Homo sapiens: one gene and its partner. The protein of the gene in region 2 purifies or fractionates together with the protein of the main gene of each other region. This does not show direct contact. Each region holds a gene or a part of one and is shown on either strand. Other genes may lie near its edges.

The links. Proteins that work in one complex are often made in the same cells at the same time.
Region 1: the proteins of NR1H4 (region 2) and ARID5B purify together in Homo sapiens (pull-down; one study listed by IntAct). This does not show direct contact.

Annotation. Positions count from the first base shown.
Region 1 is NC_000010.11:62,086,699-62,090,198, forward strand, and holds part of ARID5B (AT-rich interactive domain-containing protein 5B), read left to right. Parts: intron 1-3,500. UniProt on the Homo sapiens protein: Transcription coactivator that binds to the 5'-AATA[CT]-3' core sequence and plays a key role in adipogenesis and liver development.
Region 2 is NC_000012.12:100,476,866-100,480,365, reverse strand, and holds part of NR1H4 (bile acid receptor), read right to left. Parts: intron 1-3,500. UniProt on the Homo sapiens protein: Ligand-activated transcription factor. Receptor for bile acids (BAs) such as chenodeoxycholic acid (CDCA), lithocholic acid, deoxycholic acid (DCA) and allocholic acid (ACA).

The DNA of each region.
Region 1 (3,500 bases), on a different chromosome or scaffold from region 2:
AAAAAAAAAAAAAATATCAGGCATGGTGGTGCCCCGCTGTGGTCCCAGCTACTCAAGAGGCTGAGGTGGGAGGATAACCAGAGCCCTGGGAGGTAAAGTCTGCAGTGAGCTGTGATTATACCACTGCACTCCTGCCTGGGTGACAGAGTGAAGCCGTGTCTCAAAAAAAATGCTTTGGAGGTCCAGGAAAGGGGACCTTGGAACTGTGGTGCTGTATCCTGCAAGACTCTCCTGAAAACTTTAGAGAAGTGTTTGTCTCCCATAATTGATTTCTGTGCAACAGCCATGGGTTGAGACCAATTTAAGAAAATCTTAAGTGTGGCCGGGCGCGGTGGCTCACGCCTGTAATCCCAGCATTTTGGGAGGCCGAGGCGGTGGATCACGAGGTCAGGAGATCGAGAGCATCCTGGCTAATACGGTAAAACCCCGTCTCTACTAAAAATACAAAAAATTAGCCAGGCGTGGTGGTGGGCACCTGTAGTCCCAGCTACTCAGGAGGCTGAGGCAGGAGAATGGCGTGAACCCAGGAGGCGGAGCTTGCAGTGAGCCGAGATCAGGCCACTGCACTCCAGCCTGGGTGACAGAGAGAGACTCTATCTCAAAAAAAAAAAAAAAAAAAAGGAAAAAAGATCTTAAGTGCATATTATTTATAGGGGAATTTTGAAATGGTTCCTATGAAACCATTATTATTTTTCATATTAACAGGTAGTTTCTGCACTTTTTAAGCCCCCAACAGCCTTTTGGTAGAAGCCATTACCCCCAGCATGTAGCCAGTCATGTAGGCTGATCTGGGCTCCATTTCAACATGAATAATAAAAAACGCTGCTGCCCATTAAAAAAAAAAAAAAACTGAGCAGCCACATTTGGAGACAGCATGTTCTAGGATTCAACCCCAGAGGGAATTTTGATGCTGATATTAAATACCCCCTAAAAAATCAGGTTTATAATGAACACATAAGAGGCTCCATAATTAAACACTGGTTTAAATTGCACATGTACAACACGCACCAACCTCCCATCTAGACATCAACTTACCCAGCTGACTCTTACATAAGAAAATAGTATTGATACCAAGATTAGAAATTTGTGGGTTTTTTGTTTTTATTAGGTTTCATAATTATTTTAAGCTCTAGTAACTAAAAAGGGGGAGGAGGAAGAAGATGATGCAGATTTTTTTTTTTTTTGAGACAGAGTCTCTCTCTGTCTCCCAGGCTAGAGTGCAGTGGTGCAATCTCGGTTCATTGCAACCTCCGCCTCCCAGGTTCAAGCAATTCTCCTGCCTCAGCCTCCCGAGTAGCTAGGACTACAGGCATGCACCACCACACCCGGTTAATATTTTTGTATCTTTAGTAGAGACAGGGTTTCACCATGTTGGTCAGGCTGGTCTTGAACTCCTGACCTCAAATGATCCTCCTGCCTTGGCCTCCCAACGTGCTGAGATTACAGGTGTGAGCCACCGTCCCTGGCCAGATGATGCAGATTTCTCAACATCTGCAAGCTTGCAACATAAATGGCCAAAAGCAAGGAAATTCCAAGTGCATGCTTACATTCCATTTTTCCTTGATACTTTTGGCCTGGTGATTTATTATAGGGTTTCAGATGAGTGTGTTCTATTAGCTGCCATATGTACACAAAACACCAGGGGACAAACTGAGGACCAAGGGGACAGCTGACCGTTGAATATCTCCAATTTGGGGATTAAGTTTGAAATGGTTGGTTTGTGAATGGTAGGAGGAATCTTTAGCCTATGCACTGAGCCTGTCAGCTTGGATGATGACCATGCCCAAGAGTGGAGCCTTACTCCCTGGAGTCCATAGAAACCCTGAAAGCTGTTAGGCTTTGTGTTTCCTGTAGGCTGCAACTGTTCCCTTCAGGGAGCTGTAAGTGTCTCAGGTTTTGAAAGTTGTCATGATGAGGTTATCTAAACCTCATGGAATCTTCCACCCTCTCCAAGGTTGACCTTATAATACGAATCACTTCTCACCTCCAACATAGAACCATGTTATTAGCCAGGTGTATTTTTTCTCATTAACTCTATTTGGGGTTTTTGGTTTGGATTTTATTGTTTTCATCGCTTTTAGTTTTTGGTGTTTTCAATATGAAGCGGTGAACTCAATGGAGATACAAAGGGTGAGAAATTCCCTCTAGTTGAATCCACTATATTCAAGTAATGGGATTGCAAGTTGCATGGTGGGAAGCTAACATTTAACATACTAAGCAGATCATAAAATGTCTTACTAGAAAAAAAGTCCTTTACTTTTTTCTGCCTAGCTTTCAAAGACTTCCTAAACCTGTTTTACAACCCGAAGCATGGGACTCTGATATAACTGCAGTTCTACATCATAGAAACTTCAATGAGACTGAGTATCCCTCATTGCCCTGCGTCAAACTATAGCCCCATAAGAAACTAACAATTAGATGCAATTTGCCTTTTTCCCTTGCCATACTCATTTGTCTTTATTTTTGTGTCATGTATAAGCTCAAGAGACCAATGTGATGATTATTAATGTAGAAGAAGTAATGATATTTGTACTGGAAAAGGCAGCTACTAGTACAAAAAATAAAAAGAAATAATGATGATAAGCAAAGTCTCTTAGGTATAACATGTCCCTAAAATTCAGGGTTTTTTTTTTAAAGGGATTTAAGGAAAAATACCTGTGAAATAGGTGTGATTTCTTAAAACTTTTGTTCCCACGTATTCCTAAACCAGCATCCTCAATCTTACCCAAAGATGCTAATTGGCAGACCCACCCTTCCTTCCTTCCTGCCTGCCTGCCTTCCTTCCTTCCTTTCTTCCTTCCTTCCTTCCCTCCCTCCTTCCTTCTTTTTCTTTTTTTTTTTTTTTTTTGTGAAAGTTACACTCTTGTTGCCCAAGCTATAGTGCAATGGCATGATCTCGGCTCACCGCATCCTCCACCTCTGGGGTTCAAGCGATTCTCCTGCCTCAGCCTCCTGAGTAGCTGGGATTACAGGCACCCACCACCACACCTGGCTAATTTTTGTTTTTTTACTAGAGATGAGGTTTTGCCATGTTGACCAGGCTGGTCTTGAACTCCTGACCTCAGGTGATCTGCCTGCCTCGGCCTCCCTAAGTGCTGAGATTACAGGCACATCTTTTCTTAACAGAGAAGAACAAAGTTCAAGGGATGAGATGGAAAAAGGAGGGGAAGAATACCAGCTCAGTACAACTGTTTTGTGACTGCTCTGCTAAGACATGTCAGGGCAGAATGACAGCAGTTTTGAAAGGGCTTGTCAGTCAGCTGGGTCATAGATGGAAAGTTAAAATGACCTCCTAAGGTCAAAGTTTATATGGCTGCATAATGCAGTAAATGAGTCGAATTGGTACCCACAACTTCTGTCAGTAGGGTCACATAAGGAGTGTGTCTGTCTCATTGACTATAATTTATTTCATTCAACAGCAAAGCTATATTTGCGGTGGCACTGACTGTCTGAATTTTGACAACTTCATTTTGGGCTTTAATAGAAATGTAGTTTGCTGC
Region 2 (3,500 bases):
TTAAAAACGGCATCTCAACATCAATTTCCCATTCATTCACTCATTTATTTTGTCAGTGCACATTTATTGACAGACACTAGACATAGTAAAAAATAATGATTTTTCAGAAAGCTTAGTGGAAAAGTCAGGCAAGAAAAACCCAATGGTAGTAGTGTGAGGATTGCTACAACAGAGCTAAGCACAGGTGCCATCAGGAGCACAAGCAGGGACATTCATTCATCCAATATTCATTAATTCTCTACTACATACCAAGTTTCGGTCTAGGTTTTAGAAATACAGTGGTAAGACAAAGAGCTTACATTCTAGAGGGATAAGTGAATAATACACAAGTCAACAAATAATAGGATTTCTGATGAGGATAATAAGAAAGTAAAAGAGAAGTATAGAGTGTTGTAGTTGAACACAGTTTTGGAGAGGGCAATCAGAGAAGAGCTCTCTGAAAAGTGGACATTCGAACTGAGATGTGAAGGACAAGAATGAGTAAGTCATACAAAGGGAAAATAAGTTCAGGCAGAGTGATCAGCAAAAGCAAAGGGCCTGGGCTTGGAGTGTTGGAAGAACAACACAAGCCCAGTGAGGCTGGAAATGAGTGAGCCAAGGAGGGGCTATAGGAAATGAGGTCTGAGAGTAGGCAGCTCTTGTATGGCCTGTTGGCCATGGTAAGGAGTTTGGATTTTCTTCTAAATGGAAGTAATTGATGAGTTTTAAACAAGGGTATAGTGAGGAGAATGAGGGAAATCTTTCTGAGCGTGGAGGGTTGATTCTTGAACTTAGTCTTGAAGGAATAGGCATTAGGCTAGGAAAATGACACGCAACAGGGATGGCTATAGGAAGGGAAAATAGCATGCTGTGTTCTGAGCAACCCTAAATAGTTGTCTATGCTGTAGCTAGTGGACTCAGCTCAAATCAGTGGAAGAAGGATGACCTATTCAAGAAATTGTGGCAAGAAAATTGCCTATGCTTTGAGGGTAAAAATAAAGACATCTTTATGAATCATTCTTGGAAAATACATCTCAGATGGATTAAAGACTGAAAATTATAAAATTATTGGGAGAAAATATATTTATGATCTTTATGGATTTGGGGATTGAGAAGGACTTTATTAAATAAGAAGTAAATAGGAAAAGAATACATTTGAGAACGTTGAAATGTAAGACAGAGGTTAAGGCATCACAAACAAAGCTAAATATATAAAAATGGATAAAAATATTTACAACATAAATAACACCAAAAATATTAGTACAAACAATATATAAACGATTCCTATAAATAAAAACAGAAAGGATAAACAACCCAAGAGAGAAATTGGCAAAGGATACAAAAAGGAAATTCACCAAAGTGGAAACACAAGTGGCCAGTAAACACAGAAAATATCTGAAACTAATAATAATTAGGAAAATGGATATTACTATAACTAAATACCATTTTCACCTATGAGATTATCAAAAAATTTTAACTTTGATAATATTCAAAGTGTATGAAAATATGCATTCTCACATATTGCTAGTGGGGGCATAGGTTTTAGTCTTTTTGGAGGGCTCTTTAGCAGTGTATCTTAAAATAAAGTGCAATTTTAATTCCTAGGTATCTTTCCTGGAGAAATCTTTGCTGGTATGCACCAGGATGTTCATTGTAGCATTGCCTCTAATGCAGAAAGAGGGCAAACCACCTAAAAAACCATCAACAGTGGAATGGCTAAATGAACTGTGCTCTATAGTATCAACTATTAGGAAGTGGTTAAACAAGATTAAAGTGTTTTGATATGTATTAACATTGAAACAGTGAAGTAGAGGAGAATAGGGCTAGGGGAAGGTCAAAAAATATTTTAGACTTATTCATAATGTTGAAACTTTTAACACAATGACTACATTAAGATATGTCAGTCTCCTAGGGTATCATTTCCTGTCCTCAACTTTGCCAATTATATAATCAGATGCTATAAGCAGGTATATTTAGATTCTCCAGAAAAGAAGGGTTTGCTTCATTTTCTTAAAACAATTTTAGGATTGTGCAGCATTTTTGAGCTTCAACAAAAATTATAAACCTCTCTCTAGGAAAGACATACACAAAATACAGATATTTTTCTAAATTAATAAATGTTTAGGAGAAATTTTATGTTCACTATAAAATTGAACAAAATGTATGGAGAGCCTCCATATACGTCTTCTCCCCCACCCCCCACACACATGCACAGCCTCCTTTACTTTCAACAACCAGCACCAGAGTGGCACATTTTTTTACAATCGATGAACCTATGCTGACACATCTTTATCAGCGAAGGACTATAGTTTACATTAGGGCTCAATCTTGGTGTTGTGTATTCTATGGGTCTTGACAAGTGTATAATAACATGTACCCACCATTGGTAATATCATATAGAATGAATTCACTGCCCTAAAAATTCTCTGTAAAATGCATAGATTTTTAAATGTAGTCTTAAGTGACCCTGGCCCCCTGAAGCCCAGCTATAGCCTCAGATTCAGAGTCGGGACTCCAGGAGAGCAAGAATCTTTTACATGACCACTTTGGAATGACATTTCTTTGTCCTGTCTCTGCCCTGCAAATTCTGGATGGCAACCAGCTTTTGCTCCTTAAGCCCCAGGCTGGTATCAACTTGTCGTCTACACTGGCAGCTTCCATAACTCTCTAGGACATGGCAGCAAATAGCTCTCTGCTTAGGAACAGTCACAGCCCAGAGCAGTGTTTTTGTTTTCTCTAATCAGCAACATCCCACAGCAGGACTATCTTCTCCATGCACAACTACATTATTTACCATGTTTTCCAGATAACTGTGTTAAATATATCTACAGGACTTGAAAATGCAAAGCCATACCATTTCTCCTTTTCTTTACATTAATAACATTAATTAAAGTGTAATAGACCCAGGTTGTCTCAGGTTCATTGAGACCTGGGAAAGGTCATCTAAATCTCTTTAAAATGGGAAGCAAAATCTCAAAGTTTTGTTAGGATTTTATATTAAAAAATGAAAATTAATAAAAATTTATTTTATATTTATACTTATTTATTTTAATCACCAGAACCCTGTTATATTTCTTAATCCTAACAAAGAATAAATCTTATTTTTTTTCCTGTGCAATATTTGCAATTTTACTTTGCAATCAAGTTGCATTATATTAGTGTCATCTTATCACCAATTTACAAAGCAGAGAGAGTAGGAATAGTAGATGTTCTTTTATGGCCAAAATTGGAAATGGGCAAACTGAGGGAGAAAATAATTCACTGTGAAGAGCAAAGGGGTTAGGGGATTCCAGAGCAGGGTGAGAGAAGGGAGAGAAAAGACAGAAGGATGAATATTTGTATGTAATAATGATTTTTGCCTCCTCATACAGCTTGGTGACTAAGGACACTCGTATGGTGATGCCTTTTAGCTACATCTTCACTGGTAGAAACTACTGTGACAATAAAAAAATACCTGGGAGGAAAATTGTTCCTATTTCTTATTTTTTAAAAAAAATTTTGAGGTGGTGTCTCTCTATGTT